3 separate regions of the Homo sapiens genome follow, and all the other regions are linked to region 3. Evidence: fine-mapped expression QTL. A gene starts in region 3. Each other region holds a variant in brackets. All regions are shown on one strand. Distances are from middle to middle.

Region 1 (6,103 bases), 96 kb after region 3:
CACCTGGCTGTTTTGATGTTGCTTATTTCAGAAGCAGAATTAGGTAAGCAAAACTCCCCGGTGTGACTGAGGCACACAGAAGGCACCCATACCCCCACCTCCAGCCTGTTGACAGTACCATTTTGTAGCAGTTTTACTACTGTGTGATTTTTGTTTGGACATCTGAAGTAGAGCTTGTTTTGTTTTTAAATAAGAATATTCACAAATTAAAAACCAGCGGTCCTATTTGAATCCTGGGGTTAGCTGAGTGAGCGGCTGATGATAGAAATGAGAAATAGAACAAAATAGTATGTGCCGTAGGTAGCTTAAGAAAGTCTCAGATATTTTGTTGCTGATCAAATACTGTTTTTTTGTGGCTTCACTTGTAATCCCCCCTGTACTTACCTACTCACATTGGAGAGTTCTGAGGCCGGAGTAACTGTGTCCTTGAAACACGTTTCTAATTGGAATGCCAGGGTTCAGTAGCCGTCCCCCCGGAAAGGGGTGACCTTTTGCTGTGCTTGATGTTGCATCAGCAGCCTAGGGTTCTGTTTAGACTAAAATCTTGGCCAGAGCTCCTTGCCATCTGCTAAGAAGACTGGGGCTGAGTAGTTAAGCCAGCCTTCTGAGAGGTGGCTGTTGGTCAGGACGGGAAGCTGGTGACCTTGGCATGTCTTGGCAGCAGCTAGATCAGGCCCTCGGCAGAGACACAGGAAGCGGAACTGCTGTGCCTTAACTTGGCTGTGGAGCTGGAGCTGGAGAAGGCAGCATACTGACCAGTGGCTTTTTGATTGATTGTTTGTTATGAGGTGGAGTTTTACTCTTGTTGTCTAGGCTGGAGTGCCGTGGTGCGATCTTAGCTCACTGCAACCCCCGCCTCCCGGGTTCAAGCGATTCTCCTGCCTCAGCCTCCCAAGTAGCTGGGATTACAGGCACGCGCCACCACGCCTGGCTAATTTTGTGTTTTTGGTAGAGATGGGATTTCACCATGTTGGCCAGGCTAATCTCGAACTCATGATCTCGGGTGATCCGCCCACCTTGGCCTCCCAAAGTGCTGGGATTACAGCCGTGAGCCACTACTCCCAGCCTCTGACCAGTGTTCTTAACCTGGTCCGTGGACCTCCAGAGAGTCCATGTACCTCCTAGAGTTACTTCTAAAAGCTCTGTGAGCATGTGTGTGTGTGTGTGTGTGTGTGTGTATTTTTTTTCCTGGAGAGAGGGTTCCCAGAACCCTCAGACACAGACAAAGGGGTCAATAACCCACTAAGGATTAAGAATCATTATTCTAGTCCAAGCATTCATGTGTCAGGCTGCAAAAAACAATACCCAGGGTCACACAGAGCCAAGACTCAATTCAGGACCGTGGATTCCCCTGGTCTAGAAATTTTCTGCTGTGCCAGCCCACACCACCCCACTGTCCTTACCTCGAGTGAATATTACATTTGAGTCATTTGCTGGGCCCAAACCTAGTTTCCTTGGTATAATTTTAGGATAATTGTTTAAGTGGCAACTATTCATTCAGTAAGTAGTAAGTACTTATTGTTTGCTTGTTTCATTATGAAAGAGTGGCACATGCTCATTAAAGATTTGGAAAAATGAAAGTCAAAACAACAAAATCACCCCGAGTCCCAACCTTCTGTAACATAACCACTCTTGGCATTGGCGTGTTCCTTTCTAGTCTCTCTGTAGACGGGGTGTGTGAGTGTGTGGGTTTAACTTTGGTTGTCCTCATGCTGCGTATTCAGTTTTGTATTCTGGTCCTTTGTTCATTTAACATCTTACAAGTATTTGTCCATGTTGTAACAGTAGTGTATTAGCTTACACTCCTTGCCTGTTCAAAATGTCTTTCAGGCACAGCACTGGCCTTTAAGCCTGTGTCGTAGGGATTTCCAGAGAATGCTCTGTGTATTGAAGCACAGAAGGTGTTTCTGTGTCTCAGTGTGTTTCTGTCCCTAGGTTTAAGGCTTCATGTCATGGAGGAGATTTTATAGATGTCAAGCTAATGACCTTAGAGTTTTAAAAAATCCGTGACCGTGGCCAGGCGCAGTGGCTCACGCCTGTAATCCCAGCACTGTGAGGCTGAGATGGGCGCATCGCATGAGGTCGGGAGTTTGAGACCAGCCTGGCCAACATGGCGAAACCCCGTCTCTACTCAAAATACAAAAATTAGCCGGGCATGATAGCACGTGCCTGTAATCCCAGCTACTCGGGAGGCTGAGGCAGGAGACTCGCTTGAACCTGGGAGGTGGAGGTTGCAGTGAGCCGAGAATGCCACTGCACTACAGCCTGGGCGACAAAGTGGGACTGTCTCAAAAAAAAAAAAAAAAAAAAAAAAAAAGGAACCCATGAGCAGGCCAGCTTTCAGTCTGGAGCCGAGTGCCTTCTGTGCATTTGGATGTTTCCATTTCCTTCCCTGAGAAGATTTTCTTAGGCTACCTAGTGAGAGAACATTGAAAATATTTTTAAAGGACATCTAAGCATTGTTTTGGTCATGCATATGCTTTATAATTGTGTG[T/C]TGTTTCATAGCATATACCTCTGGTACAGGTGGGCAAGTTTTTCTTTGAAGAAATGGGTTATTGACTCATATGTCATAACCTTGAGTGTTACTCTCCCGGTGTCCAGAGGTCACATTCATGTTGCGGGGTTGGTATGAAATTAAATCTTGGTGATGTGACCCTACATTCTCTTCTGGTCCCTAGAATCGGCTTCTGGTCTCCTGATAACTGAAGTGGAGACAGAAGTTGAGCCTGTTGCCCAGGCAAACTAAAGCTGCTTTTGTTCTTCGGAATCTGCTTTGCCTCCGTCAGCCTGCTTCCTTCCCCACACATGCTGGCCGCACTGTCCCCACTCCAGACCTCTGCTGTGTGTCCTGGGCAGGGCCGCGTTTTGGCAGTACCCTTTCAACTCATCCTAAGCTTCGTGTAGATTACTTTAGTATATATTTTTTATAAAACATAAAGCCTTTCCTCTCGATGGAAATCAAAGCTTACCATGTGAGCACTCGAACTTCTAAGTTGTGACAGGAATAACAAAACTGCAAGGAGTGGAAAAGATGGAAAAGCCTGTGGGAAATCCGAGGCCTTTTGAAAGAAGGGAGCTGATGACTTCACGACCAGCTCCTGGAGCCCCTCCTTTCTGCTGAAGCCGCGGCATTTCCCTCCGTGGCCACACGAGGGCACCCTTGGCCCTTTTATCAAAGCGCCTTCACTTCCCCGTGGGAATGGAGACAAGTCTGTCCACGGTGTTTTCTTGAAATACCCAGTTGCTACCCAGATTTGTATTTTTATGTAAACAAATACATTTTCACAGAAATAAAATTTGAAAAATAAAAGTAGAAAGAGAAAAAAACACTAGCCATGGTCTCTTTACCTGGTATAATCCCTTTCGACTTTTTAATGTTTTTTTAATGGTCCCAGCTGACTGTTTTTTCTGTTCTTTCCAGCTGTCCTTCTACTCTAGAATATATCCAGGTTGGGCCAGTCCTTTGGATCCAGTTTTTCTTGATATCTAGTTAATGAAGATACTGGAGGGGAAATGCTGAGTGATCTTCAAACAGTAACTTTCCAAAAGCCAGGAGTAATACCAAGATCTCCAAGAAAGCAGCTGGGTTCAGAAGGCCGGGTGCGGTGGCTCACGCCTGTCATCCCAGCACTTTGGGAGGCAGAGGCAGGCAGATCACAAGGTCAGGAGTTCAAGACCAGCCTGACCAACATGGTGAAACCCTGTTTCTACTAAAAATACAAAAATGAGCTGGGCGTGGTGGTGCATGCCTGTAATCCCAGCTACTCAGGAGGCTGAGGTAGGAGAATCGCTTGAACCCGGGAGGCAGAGGTTGCAGTGAGCCAAGATCGTGCCACTGCACTCCAGCCCAGGCAACAGAGTAAGACTCAGTCTCAAAAAAAAAAAAAAAAAAAAAAAAAAAAAGCAGCTGGGTTCAGTGTTCTGTTGTTGACCCTTGTTTGGGGTTCCTCTGGTTGGCTGGCTACCATGCATGTCGTGTGTTGCTTATATCAGAAGGTGAGGGTTCTGTGTGGTGTAGATGCTGTCGGTTAGCCGGCCTTGCTTCTCACAAGGGGCGTTTCTGGGGAGAACGCTGGGGTCTGTGTGGGCTCAAGGAGGATCCCGTCTCCCCTTATGTTTCTGGTACAGGATCAGATGTGGCCGCCCAGCAGTTGTGCACATAGGAGGAGAAGGGGCCAGGTGGGAAAAGTAAGTCAAGAGCCCTCTGGAAGAAGGAGCATTTCAAAGGTGCAGCAGGTTTATGGCGATAGAGGGGGTCCCCTCAGGAAAGGGTCACGGCCTTTTTAGGGAAGTTGGTGCACAGGAGACTTGGTTTGCTGAATGGGCACTAACCTCGGTAAAACCCAGAAGAGGCTGAATAGAATGAACTGACTCCTGCCTCCTGCGGGCAGCACTGATGTGTCGAACCTCTCTAGTAATCCCGAGTACGCGGCTCTCGGTATGAGTGCCAGCGCAGTATCAGAGGCCCGGACGGCGCCTGCCCCACTGATGATGGGCATCACACGTGCCCCGGCGTTCCTGCTCTGTTCTGTGACATTCACATGCTCTGCTGTGGCTCAGCCAAATGACTAAAACAGCGGTTGGTGTTTTAAATTCCTGGTTGGAGCAGCTAATGCTGCCTGGTGGAGGCTGTGCTTTGTACTCCACGGACTGTGTTGTGACTACAGAACGCCCTTGCCCCTCGAGGTGCCCTTTGAGATGTAGCCTGTCTGCCGGTCTCAATCCAAGCAGAAGCGTGGGTTTCCTTAGGGAAGAGGAAGATTGTGGGTGCTTCCCTCACAGGGGAACTGAAAGGAGAAGGGGTAGAGGAAAAGTACAGTCGGACTTGGCAGAACTGGCTCGCAAATGGTGCTCTGAGAGGGCCAGGCAGGTGTAAACCCAAGACTCTTTTCCACCCACCCTAGGGGAGCAAGAGGCAGGAAAGAGCACAGACTTCGACGTTCAGACCTGGGTTCCCGTCCAGTTCCATTCCTTGCACAGGGTAAGTCCGTTTACTAAGCCTTGTCTTCCTCGTGCCACAGATGAGGAATTGTCGCTTCACATTTAGAGCAGTGCTTAAGTGCAAGAAGGACTGAAATCTCAGCAGAGGGTGGAAACACTTGCTCCTCTTCCGATTCTTTGAATTGTCCATTTCCATTCAGAAAACCTTCTACCAGTAGACTCAGATGAAAAGGCTGAGACCTCACGTGTATGTCTGTAGGTGTAAAGTACCACCGTTGACAAAGAGCAAAACCCATACTTGATGTGATGGAGGGAGGACTGGGGGCCAATATTGATGGTCCACCTTCCACACACACTGTCTCATTTAGTAACCCCGTCAGCCTGTGTGACGTTCCTAGGTGGTGGCTGAAGGAAAGGGAAGCTCAGAGAGTGTCAGTGACTTGCTGTAAGGTTATCCACGGAGCTCAGTCATAGAAATGGGATTCGAACTCAGGTCCAAGAAGCCAAGACTGGGATCTTGTGCCGGAACTCAAAAGTCTATAGCAAGTGCCGCACTTCATGTGGAAATGTACTTCCAGGCTCGTCTGACCCACCTCTAGGGAGGGGGCTGCAGTGATACAACACGGGGAAGGAAAAAAGCATCTTTCACCCTCACAGTTTAGCACTTCAAGGTAATATTATTTTCCAGCCTATGATGAACGAGTGACATGTAGTCAGTGGAATTACTTAGAATTCTTCATTTATGCTACCAAATCTTCACGGAACTTTGTATTTGGCAGTAGTGCAGATAATTAAGTAGTTAGTGAAAGCGCAAAATAAAATATCTAGTGAAAGTACATGTTGGGGCCAGATGCAGTGGCTCACGCCTGTAATCCCAGCACTTTGGGAGGCCGAGGCGGGTGGATCACCTGAGGTCAGGAGTTTGAGACCAGCCTGGCCAACATGGTGAAACCCGTCTCTACTAAAAATACAAAAATTAGCCGGGCGTGGTGGCTCACACCTGTAATCCCAGCTACTCGGGAGGCTGAGGCAGGAGAATCGCTTGAACCCGGGTGGCGGAGGTTGCAGTGAGCCGAGATCGCGCCACTGTGCTCCAGCCTGGGGGACAGAATGAGAAAAAAAAATTATGCTACCAAATCTTCACAGAACTTTGTATTTGGCA
Region 2 (6,232 bases), 100 kb after region 3:
CTGGAGCTACTGGTCGGCTTGCTGCCTGTTTCCCTGTTTTAGGGTCCTTCCCACCTCTTAAGGGAGGAGTCCGAAGGAGTCTACCCATGGGCCTGCTTGCTCTTTCTCCCACTGCTGGCTGACCTCATCCACGCCAGTTTCTTCAACCACTCCTCATACATTCATTGTGCCCAGATCCAGACCCATCCTGAACTTCCAGCATCCTCATTCCTCACCCGCCGGCCCATGGCCGTGTGAAACTCCTCTGATTGTCTGCACCTGCTTCTCCTGTTGCCTTGCTCACCATCCACCCAGCTCTCCAGAGGACAAATCTCTGTTCTTCCCCCTCCTTTCCCACCAGGTGTAAAGTCTTCCACTAAATCCCACCAATTCCACCTTAGAAACCTCTCCCCAGTCCAGCCCGATAGAGCTCTGTAATGGCCTCAGCGAGTTCCGGGGAGCTTCAGAGTAAAGAAGTAGAAAGAGTAGATTTAGGTATTTTGGGCAGAGAACAAGATGAAATCTGCTTTGTTTGGGGAGTGAACTGGAAGCTTTCAAAAGAAAGAGTAGAATGGGAAATAGATCCCACAGGCAGGGGAGTTGGTTGAGATCAAGAGATGCGAGATCCCAAAAAATGGGAGGCCCTTTCTGATACAGGACAGGCCAGCATTTTCCCCCTTTGATAATTTCCAGGTTTTGTTGTTGTTGTTGTGTTGTTTTGAGACGGGGTCTCGCTCTGTCGCCAGGCTGGAGTGCAATGGCACTATTTCGGCTCACCGCAACCTCTGTCTTCCAGGTTCAAGCGATTCTCCTGCCTCAGCCTCCCAAGTAGCTAGGACTACAGGCGCACGCCACCACACCCAGCTAATTTTTGAATTTTTGGTAGAGTCGGGGTTTTACCATGTTGGGCAGGATGGTCTCGATCTCCTGACCTCGTGATCCGCCCACCTCGGCCTCCCAAAGTGTTGGGATTACAGGCGTGAGCCACTGTGCCCAGCCAGGTTTTTTTAATTCTTAGTCCGACAATTTTATTTTATTTTATTTTATTTTATTTATTTATTTTTGAGACGAGTCTTGCTCTGTCGCACAGGCTGGAGTGCAGTGGCGCGATCTTGGCTCACTGCAAGCCCCGCCTCCCAGGTTCACGCCATTCTCCTGCCTCAGCCTCCCGAGTAGCTGGGACTACAGGCGCCCGCCACCACACCCGACTAATTTTTTGTATTTTTAGTAGAGACAGGGTTTCACCGTGTTAGCCAGGATGGTCTCGATCTCCTGACCTCATGATCCACCCTCCTCGGCCTCCCAAAGTGCTGGGATTACAGGCGTGAGCTACCGTGCCCGGCAATTTTATTTTTAAAAAGCAGGACAGGCCGGATGCAGTGGCTCATGCCTGTAATCCCAGCACTTTGGGAGGCTGAGGCGGGCGGATCGCCTGAGGTTGGGAGTTTGAGACCAGCCTGACCAACATGGAGAAACCCCATCTCTACTAAAAATACAATATTAGCCGGGCATGGTGCGTCATGCCTGTAATCTCAGCCAACTTGGGAGGCTGAGGCAGGAGACTCGCCTGAACCAAGAGGCAGAGGCTACGGTGAGCCGAGATCACGCCATTGCACTCCAGCCTGGGCAACAAGAGTGAAACTCCGTCTCAAAAAAAAAAAAAGCAGTACATTTTCATTATAAAAAATTTAGAAATGCTGGGCACTGTGGCTCACACCTTTAATCTTAGCACTTTGGGAGGCTGAGGTGGATGGATCGCTTGACCTCAGGAGTTCAAGACCAGCCTGGGTAACATGGCGAAATACCATCTCTACAAAAAATAAAAAAATTAGTCGGGTGTGGTGGTGCACGCCTGTAGTCCCAGATACTCAGGAGGCTGAGGTAGGAGGATCACTTGAGCCAGGGAGGTCAAGGCTGCAGTGAGCTGTGAGCACACCACTGCACTCCAGCCTGGGCGACAGAGTGAGACCCTGTCTGAGAAAAATTTTAGAAAATATTGAATAACACTAGAATTCTACTATTCAAATCAAATTATTTTACATTTTGTTGTCTATTTTATATGCATATTTTTTACATAGAAATTATGGATCATATGGTATCTTAGTGTTTTATAATCTTTTTCATTTAGTAATATAACTTTTTTCTTATTATAAAGTTAACATGTTTCAGAAAACTTGTACAAATAAAAATTAGTGGTAACCACACTGCCCAGCGACAAGCCCTGCTAATAGTAGCAACCCTGTTTTCCTCACATGCTGTCAGTATTGTGAGCATTGCTTCAGCTAGCCGTTACTAGTCGGAAATTTGGATTTTCTGGTTTTCACTTTCCTTTTTCTTTTCTTTTTTTTTTTTTTTTTTTTTTTTTTTTTTTTTTTTTTTTTTGAGACAGAGTCTCGCTCTGTCGCCCGGGCTGGAGTGCAGTGGCGCGATCTCGGCTCACTGCAAGCTCCGCCTCCCGGGTTCACGCCATTCTCCTGCCTCAGCCTCCCGAGTAGCTGGGACTACAGGCGCCCGCCACCACGCCCGACTAATTTTTTGTATTTTGTTTAGTAGAGACGGGGTTTCACCGTGTTAGCCAGGATGGTCTCGATCTCCTGACCTCGTGATCCGCCCGCCTCGGCCTCCCAAAGTGCTGGGATTACAGGTGTGAGCCACTGCGCTTGGCCCCATTGTGATTTTTTTTTCCCTGAGATGGAGTCTCGCTCTGT[C/T]GCCCAGGATGGAGTGCAGTGGTGTGATCTCGGCTCACTGCAACCTCCGCCTCCTGGGTTCAAGTGATTCTCCTGCCTCAGCCTCCTGAGTAGCTGGGAGTACAGGTGCATGCCACCACGCCCGGCTAATTTTTGTATTTTTAGTAGCGACGGGGTTTCACCGTGTTAGCCAGGATGGTCTCGATCTCCTGACCTCGTGATCCGCCCACCTCGGCCTCCCAAAGTGCTGGGATTACAAGCGTGAGCCACTGTGCCCGGCCTTTTTTTTTTTTTTTTTTTTTTTTTTTTTTTTTTTTGAGGCAGAGTCTTGCTCTTTCTCCCCATACCCCCCAGCCCCGCCCCAGGCTGGAGTGCGGTGGTGCAATCTCGGCTCACTGCAACCTCCGCCTCCCGGGTTCAAGCAATTCTCGTGCCTCTGCCTCCAGAGTAGCTGGGATTACACGCATGTACCACCACACCCGGGTACTTTTTTGTATTTTTAGTAGACACAGGGGTTTCACCATGTTGCCCAGGCTGGTCTCGAACTCCCAACCTCACGTGATCCGCCCGCCTCGGCCTCCCAGAGTGCTAGGATTACAGGCATGAGCCACTGTGCCCGGCCCCTTTTTCTTTTCTTTAGTGATGATTTTGTTTTATTTTTATAGCTTTTAGAGGTAATCAAATCTATCACACTGTGCTTTTATATTTTCTTTGTTTGCCTTTATGGGTAGAAACTCCTTCACCACCCTAGAGCTGAAAAATGTTTTCCTATATTTTATTATGGCTATTTTAGTTTTATTTTTTACATTTAGCATTTGAATTTACATTGCTGTATGGTGTGAAGTTTAAGGACCTGTCTTTTACCAGTGGTTCAGCATTATTTCAGACTAACTCATCAGAGAGGGCGCTGGGAAGCTCTAGCACTCCCCACTGAGGTGTCCCTGATGGCACAGGGAGTGGAGCAGGCTGGGCAGCAGTGGTGTGTCCTTTCCCAGTGGGCCCTGGGGCCTTGGGGAGAGATCTCATAGTGCACCTGGAGCTGAGCCCTGGCTCTGTGGTATCTGCTCTGGGCTGTGCAGCCAGTGACCGGCCACTGCTCTCGGCCTTGCCTCCAGAGAGAGCCTCATTCCTGGCATAGGCTGCTGATCTCTTGGGCTTTCAAGACTTGATGCTACAGCCTTGCATTTGGGTGTGAACTGGGGCTGCTGGGATATAGACCTTAGTCCTTTGTGTGGGGCACTGATCACATTGCAGCCCGTCGGTCCTGGGAGGTTTCTTCCCTATCACCATGTCCCCACCCCTGCGTGATCCAGCGGACTCTTGACTCCCATGGCAAGACTCCACCCGGCTTTACTCATAACTTCTGCCCAGTCCCACTCCCTTGACCTGAATTAGTTTTGCTGTCATAAAGCCACCTCTTTTTTCCTTTAAAGGAATCCCTGACATCGTCATCCGTCTCCTGTGCCTTTCCGCTGGGTCAGCCTCCTCCCACCAAGCTTCTGACCCACTGTCATCCGCAGCTGCCACTCTAGCTGCAGAGCTCGACTGGGCTCTGGTTTCTCAGAAGAGCTCAGAGGACCTGGCTCCTCCCTCTTTGCTTCTGAACTGCATTTCTTTCCTTATTACTCAGTGTCCACACCCACGGTGGCTGCCTGGATAAAAATCTGCCCCTTTCTCCCGTCACCTTTCATGCCAGACAAAAGCCCCAGTGAGTAATGGTGACCTACCCAGGTCCAGCTAGCAGCTCTCCATTCCTGAGTGGCCTGGGGCAGAACAGGGTCCTGCGAGCTCCTGGATCCCAAGTCTGATTCCCTTTCCCTGTCTTCCCGCTTATCTGCTAAGCTTGTTTATTGGGGACCACTAAGCAAAGTGAATGATTATTCCTGTCTTTAACGAGGAGGGGTGGAGTTCCCTCTCCATCTTCACCCACTTCTGGGAGGCTTTCAGGGACTCAACACCCCACACTGATAGCACTTCCCCAGGCCTGGCCCAGCCAGCCAAAGAGGAGGACCAGGCCACTTCTCAACCTAGCTGATGCTTGGCAGCTTTGTGACCTTGGATACACCTTCTCTTGGGAGGTCAGACCCCATGATCCCAGCTCTTCCAGCTATGACATCATGTGAGGCTGCAATTTTTTTTTTTTTTTTTTTGAGACAGTATCTTGCTATGTTGCCCAGGCTGGCCTTGAAATCCTGGGCTCAGGCGATTCTCCTGTCTCAGCCTCCCACGTAGCTGGAACTTAGGGCGTGAGCCACCGCGCCCAGCTTCTGGAAAGGACATGAATGGGGAGGTGGAACTTGATTGGACCTGTTCTGTGAGTTCAGGAGAGGTCCTCTGACAACTCACTTGGGGTGGGGAAAGGAGGTAAAGAGTCCTGTGGAAACTTTTGGCTGTGGGGACCCCATTTCACTGATGATTGAATGGGTCCACCTCTGTCAAAGGAATTCAGAGTCCCACTCATCATTCAGACTGGGGGAATCAGGCTCAGTTGACTGGCCCAGCCTTAAATCCACTGAATTTGTTTTTATCTCTACATAGAAAAACGGAATTACAGTTGCTTCTCACTGTCCAATGGGGATTGGTTCCTGGAGCCTCCCTGAATACCTGTCCATGGATGATGCTCAAATCCCTTACATGTAACCTATGCACATCCTCAGGTATCCTTTAACTCATCTCTGCGCTACTCAAATACCTCATACCATGTAAATGCTGTGTAAATAGTTCTTGTGCTGTGTTGGTTTTTAAATTTGTATTATTTTTTCTTGTATATTTTCCATTTTTTTTTCCTGAATATTTTTGATCCACGGTTAGTTGCCTCCATGGGTGCGGACCCACGGACACGGAGGCTGCACCTTCTGAAATGAGCATGGCGGCGCCCTCTGGGTCCTCGTGTCGTCCTGTCTCTGGTGCTGCATCCAGCACGGTGGCGAACAGCAGAACTAATCTTTTGCAAGTTATCACAGTGGAGTGGAGTTCCGCTCTGTTTGCTTTTGCCCCGCTCTGGCTTACCAGAGGTCCCCTGGCCTTGGCCACAGCATACCTAGCCTAGTGCTTGGCACCTCAGGCACACAATAAATATTTATGAAATGGATCTTCTCTGGTATGTCTTGAGTGTACTAGTCTTCTGTTTTTTCCTCTTCATCCTGCAGCCAGCTTCCTCCCATGGGTCTTGTTTTAATGATGGTATGTGAAAAGCTCCTTAGCTGCTTGCAAAAGATGAGACATCAGGCTTGAAGGGTTGGGATTTCCTGTGAACATCTGTACTTTCGGCTTCACGCCCTTTCCCCCATCTCATGACTCAGGCTTTGTAGGAGTCAGGGCACTGATTTTCATAGCTCTTGGAGTTGATACTTTGTTAGGTGAGTGGTGGGGGATAGGAAGACAGTTCCACTAAGGGGATGTCTCTGGCTCAGCATATTAAAAAATTGGGGAATTGGTGCTTCTTATTGTGGTTGGTGAAAAAAAGAATAAAAGATTAAAAAATTGGAGGACATAATGGAATTTGAACTGGGAGGTGGGGTGCACAAGACTCGGGGAGGAAGACTGAAAACGGAAACCCTCTCGTG
Region 3 (6,232 bases):
TGATACTCAATGATTACTTTCTGAAATACAAAGTTAGAGAGACCTGTGGCTGTTGACAGGCTGGCTGTGGCCAAAGGACAGTGACAGGGAAGGGCCACAAAGTCCTTGAAATAATTAATTTCAGTCAAGAGGGAGTCCAGTCTGATGCCCTCAAGGATTGATTCCAGTCCAGTAGGCAGCTGATGCTGAAAGCAGCTCTGATAACTTGCTAGGCAACATTTCATAATTAGCAGCATTATTCACTGGATGTGCAGAATCAGTTTCCTGCTACAAAGAGGTAGCAAAGGATGTAACTGGCTAATTGGACATCTGCACTGTCCTTGCTGTGGTATGGAAGTTTGAGAGACTTCTCTGACCAATTACATCCTTGGACATTTCAGGGTAAATTTGGAAAAAGGCAGATGTTGTTAATCTATTCTGTGGAGTCTCCAGATAATTTTCATTTTATATAAAAAAGTTTTCAAGGATATGTATTTATCATTGTACCACAATATTTGGGAATAGGTCATACCAGATACATTGGAAAGAACCTATGTCCATCCACAGGGGAATTAGTTTTTTTTTTGTTGTTGTTTGTTTGTTTGTTTGTTTGTTTGTTTTTGAGATGGAGTCTTACTCTGTTGCCCAGGCTGGAGTGCAATGGCGCGATCTCGGCTCACTGCAACCTCTGCCTCCCGGGTTTAAGCGATTTTCCTGCCTCAGCCTCCCGAGTAGCTGGGATTGCAGGTGCCCGCCACCACGCCCAGCTAATTTTTGTATTTTTAATGGAGACGGGGTTTGACTATGTTGGCCAGGCTGGTCTCAAACTCCTGACCTCAAGTGACCCACCTGCCTTCGCCTCTCAGAGTGCTGGGATTATAGGTCTGGCCAACCCAACCTGGGCACGAATTAGTTTTTTAAAAAGTGGTATATCCAGCTGGGTGCGGTGGCCCAGGCCTATAATCCCAGCCCTCTGGGAGGCCGAGGCGAGTGGATCACGAAGTCAGGAGTTCGAGACCAACCTGGCCAACATGGTGAAACCCTGTCTCTACTAAAAATACAAAAAAATTAGCCAGGCGTGGTGGTGGGCACCTGTAATCCCAGCTACTCGGGAGGCTGAGGCAGAAGAATCGCTTGAACCTAGGAGGTGGAGGTTGCAGTGAGCCGAGATCACGCCACTGCACTCCAGCCTGGGCGACAGAGAGACTCTGTCTCAAAAAAAAAAAAAAAAGTGTTATATGCATTCAATGGAATACTGTGCACCTATCACAAAGAACAATAAAGAGCTATATTGTTGGAAGTGGAAGAATCTCCAAGAGTTATATTTGAGTATATGTGCATGTGTGTGTGTGTATATATATGTAATTACATATATATACAAATATATATTATTATTTGTATAAAAATTATTTGGTTATATATCCTTATGAGATATAGAGGTTTAGTAGTAAGGTTACCCAAATTTGATGGTGCTTGGCTGTGAGTGGTGAGATTTTAGATAATTTTTGTCTTTCTGATATCTTTATGTATTATTTAAATTATTTAAAAATTTTCAGTTATTAAAATGTTTTATCTTTATGGAATACTTAAAAAAAACTGACCAGAGAAGTTATAAGGAACAATATTATTATTATTAGGAACTCACTATATACTAGACATTCTGCTGTTTTATATGCATTATCTGATTTAATTCTCACAACCCCATGAGATTATTATCCTATTTTGTAATATTGAGCAAACTAAGCCTTCAAGTGTTTAAGCAAATTGCCCATACTCACAGGGTTAGTAAATGGTGGGGGCAGGATTAAAGGCCAGGTTTCCCAGCTGCAGTGCTACTAGGGTCTCTCTGGCCCGACCTACAGGTAAACTGGGTTGCTCTTTGGAGCTAACAGAAAGTTACCAATATCTTAAATACAATCACTTCAACCCCACCAGTCCTATCTCCGAGGCCATCTTTTCTTTTACCTTTCCAGCAGCATGCACTAAATAAAATGCCATAACTAGTATCAAAGCCACTACCAACCAAAGATGGAAAACTTTCTGTGGTAATATGTTACATTGGTTGCTGAAATGAACCATGCCTTCCAGTATTGGAAGGGACCCTGGCATAGTCCCCTCCCCTTGAATTGGGGCTAGCCCTTCTACTTGCTTTAACCAAGAATATAGCCAAGGTGCTAGTTCTGCACCTACGCTTTAAGAAGGCCTGGCAGCTTCCACTTTTGCCCTTTTGGGAGCCCCGAGCCAACATGTAAGAAGTATTCTGGCGGGGCACGATGGCTCATGCCTGTAATCTCAGTACTTTGGGAGGCCGAGGCGGGTGGATCATCTGAGGTCAGGAGTTTGAGACCAGCCTGGCCAACAGGATGAAACCCCGTCTCTACTAAAAATACAAAAAATTAGCTGGGCATGGTGGCGGGCGCCTGTAATCTCAGCTACTCAGCTACTTGGGAGGCTGAGGCAAGAAAATCGCTTGAACCCAGGAGGCAGAGGTTGCATGCAGTGAGCCGAGATGGCGCCATTGCACTCCAGCCTGGGCAATAAGAAACTCCATCTCGGGGGAAAAAAAAAATGTCATCCTACTCTGCTAGACAAATTACATGGAAAGGCCACGTGGACAGGGAGAGAACTTGGACTACAGGGAGAGAGACCCAGTTCTTTCAGCGGAACCAGCCCCCACTTGTTGCTATGACCACTGGCAAGACCAGCAGAACGGGTGGGCTAATCCCAGCCCAGATTGCAGAACTGTGAGCAAGTAAAATGGTGGTTGTTTTAAGTCTTACGTTTTGGGGCGGTTTGTTACACAACAGATTATGAAAACACCTCCTCAGCTTTCCTTGGGTGACTACTGGTACTCACTTGTGTATAAGTCTCCATTCCTTAATCCTTACTATCTCCCAATTTTATGGTAATAGTTTGCCAGAAGCGTTCACATTAACGACGAGGACGTAGGCAGGCCCCCCCTTTTTTTTTTTTTTTTGAGACAGAGTCTTGCTCTTTCGCTCAGGCTGGAGTGCAGTGGTGCGATCTTGGCTCACTGCAACCTCCGCTTCCCGGATTCAAGCGATTCTCCTGCCTCAGCCTCCCGAGTAGCTGGGATTACAGGCGCCCGCCACCACGCCCGGCTAATTTTTGTATTTTTAGTAGAGACGGGGTTTCACCATGTTGTCCAGGCTGGTCTTGAACTCCTGACCTCAGGTGATCTGCCCGCCTCAGCCTCCCAAAGTGCTGGGATTACAAGCGTGAGCCGCCGCGTCCGGCCGGATCCTCAGTTCTTTCGCTGTAAACGAGAGTACTCTTCCCCAACCCACAGGCTTATATCTCTTACAATTCAGTGAGTGAGACATCGGCTGAGGACACACCTGTTGCACAAAAAGGGCTCACTGCACGCCATCACACCCAAGTCTCGTACCCTCATCTTCATAACCTGCCCAATCCCAGTGAGTGTGAGAGGTAAGTCTGCAGCAGGGCCCGGAAAACTTGTTTCTTTTTCTTTTAAATAAGTTTTCTCGCGAATTCGAACGCATGTCCTCCTCCTGCCATACCTCAAAGGACTCCGCTCGTCACCACGCCCCCGCGCCTTCTGTTAGGAGCAGCAAACCCCAGGTGTCGCGAGGGTTTCTTCTTTCTTCAAGATCAGCCACAGGTCGCGCGAGAGGGATGTGTCCAATCACGAGGCTAGATGGCTTCACAAGATGGCGGCGCGCTGGGAGCGTATCATCTGCGTTTCTAGGAGCTTCGCTATGCGGCTGCTTTAAGATTCTAGGGTTGTACAGGCCCACGCCAGACACGACGTCTGGCAGGAACCTCGGCCTCAGAGGTGGGTCACTTATATCTCTCACGCAGATTTACTATCATGGGTCACTTAACCCGTGGATCACACGGGTTCCTCATTCTTGAGTTTTGGGCTAGTGAGGTGCCGACTTCGGGGTCTAGGAGGGGAGACCTGATGTGGCTGTGTGTGCGCACGCGGGGGTGTTGAGAGTGGATGAGTGGGAGGAGTTGGCGAATAGAATAGAGACTAGGACTGAAGTAGGAAAGACTCCCCGGTGTTTAGGAGGTTTAGAGAGATCCAAAACTGAGGCGGGAAGACAAACTGAGCTGATAAAATGAGGGCATGGAAAGAACGGCAGTGGCAGGACTAGTGGGAAACGTCGGATTTATGAGAGAAGGCGAAGAGAGAAGATGTAGATTGGTGTGGAAGTGGGAGGGATCTGTGCAGAAAGAATTTGAAGTTCTGAAATTGGAATTTAGACTGTTTTACAGGCTGTGTATCAAGAGAGTGGTAGTTGAAGAGGGTTAATGGTCAAGAGGAACCAAGGAAACAGAAGCATGGAGATGAGAAAGAAAAAAAAAAAAAGGGAAAGCCTCATTCTCAGGGTTCTACTATTAACTGTGGCTTTCTGGACTGACTCAAGTAACCGGGAAGAAAAGTTCCAGTCCATGGGCTGAGCTTTTTTTGAAACTCAGTGAGGGTGCTTTGTGTCGGTGGTCCAGACAGGGAAGAGTTCTATCGTGGTTTCAATCAACAAATACTTGAGTGCCTACTCTCTTAGGCCCTATTTTAGGCGTTGGGATATGCGGTGAACAAGACAGACAAAATATTTACCCTCTTGAAACTTACTGACGGGAGATTTTTTAAAGTAAGTAAAATATATGGAATGCCAGATGGGTAAATTCTGTGTAGAAAATTGAAGCTAGAGCCTGGGTAGCAAAGCCAGACTCCCTTTCTACAAAAAATGAAGTAAATTAACCAGGTGCAGTGCTCTGTACCTGTAGTCCCAGCTGCTTGGGAGGCTCAGGCGGGAGGATTGCTTGATCTCAGGAGTTGGAGGCTGCAGGGAGCTATGATTCCATCATTGCACTCTGGGCAACAGAATGGAAGACCTTGTCTCAACAAGAAGAAAAAAAAAAGAATTGATGCCCAGTTAAACTCTGAAGAATAGGTTATATTTAGCTAAGAACTCATTGCCTATATTGGGAGGTTAGTTAGAAAAGAAGTGGTTGTATTTACTCATTCTGTATCTGTTCTGACCAGAAAAGTTGAATAATGTAGGAAATGAATCGAATCTGCCATGTCTGTAATTTAATTTGTTTCACATATATTCAGAGTATTATGTTGTGTGTGCACTGATGTCAGCTATGTAGTCTGTAGAATTTTCCTTAATGTGTGGCAGAGCCCTAACATGCCACTGTCTCTTGAAGTCACTGTTAGGATATGGTGACTAAAGTCAGCAACAATGTATATTTCAAAATAGCTAGGAGAGGGCTTGAAATGTTACCAATACATAGATATAAAAAATACTCAAAGTGGTGAATACCCCATATACTCTGACTTGATCAGCACACATTCTATGCGTGGAACAAATACCGCATAAATGTCACATGTCCCCCATAAATTGGGAAAATATTTTCCATCAGTTTAAAGAAATTACTCTTAGTTTACTTTTTTTTGTTGCTTGCCAGAATCACAAGAAAGAACATTTTCTTTTTCTTTTTTTTTTTTGAGACAGTTTCACTGTCACCAAGGCTGGAGTGCAGTAGCACGATCTTGGCTCACTGCAACCTCCACCTCCTGGGTTCAAGTGATTCTCCTGCCTCAGCCTCCCGAGTAGCTGGGATTACAGGCACCCACCACCACGCCCAGCTAATTTTTTTTTTTTTTTTGAGACGGAGTGTTGCTCTGTCACCAGGCTGGAGTGCAGTGGCGTGATCTTGGCTCACTGCAACTTCGGCCTCCTGAATTCAAGTGATTCTCCTGCCTCAGCCTCCCAAGTAGCTGGGACTTCAGGCACATGCCACCACACCCAGCTAATTTTTGTATTTTTAGTAGAGATAGGGTTTCACTATGTTGGCCAGGATGGTCTCCATGTTGGCCAGGCTGGTCTCACAAACTCCTGACCTCAGGTGATCCTCCAGTCTTGGCCTCCGAAAGTGTTGGGATTATAGTCGTGAGCGACTGTGCCCGGCCAACACTTTAATTTTGGATATTTTCTTTTTAATAAAGTCTATTATTTGTATTTGTTTATTTTGAGACAGGGTCTCACTGTGTGGCCCAGGCTGGACTGGAACTCCTGGGCTCAAGCTATCCTTGGCATCCCTAGTAGCTAGGAACACAGGCATGCACCACCTTGCCCAGTTGATGTTTTCTTGAGAACTGGGGGCCATCCTAGTTTTATGCTCCCCTCTTTCCTGATGGTCAGTAAAGGGTATGTCAATGCTAGGAAATTAAGACAGGTATATAGTCATTTTTAGT

What was found.
Region 1: its variant is fine-mapped to the expression of METTL16 in thyroid (GTEx, PIP above 0.99). The same link has a PIP of 0.9 or more in unexposed skin and whole blood.
Region 2: its variant is fine-mapped to the expression of METTL16 in whole blood (INTERVAL, PIP above 0.99).

What each region holds. Positions count from the first base shown.
Region 1 is chr17:2,413,273-2,419,375 of GRCh38, reverse strand. METTL16 (methyltransferase 16, RNA N6-adenosine) reads left to right here. Exons shown (of 10, transcript NM_024086.4): 10 at 1-3,327. It overlaps LOC284009 (a long non-coding RNA gene), which reads left to right and starts at 3,940. Exons shown (of 3, transcript NR_028335.1): 1 at 3,940-4,188; 2 at 4,905-4,981. The variant T/C (reference allele first, on the strand shown) is at 2,495.
Region 2 is chr17:2,405,098-2,411,329 of GRCh38, reverse strand. LOC284009 (a long non-coding RNA gene) reads left to right here. Exons shown (of 3, transcript NR_028335.1): 3 at 4,100-4,349. Among named protein-coding and RNA genes, the nearest start is that of MNT, 7.2 kb to the right of the region's middle. The variant C/T (reference allele first, on the strand shown) is at 2,688.
Region 3 is chr17:2,509,323-2,515,554 of GRCh38, reverse strand. METTL16 (methyltransferase 16, RNA N6-adenosine) reads left to right here and starts at 3,667. Exons shown (of 10, transcript NM_024086.4): 1 at 3,667-3,796. RefSeq lists enhancers at 3,467-3,516, 3,587-3,796.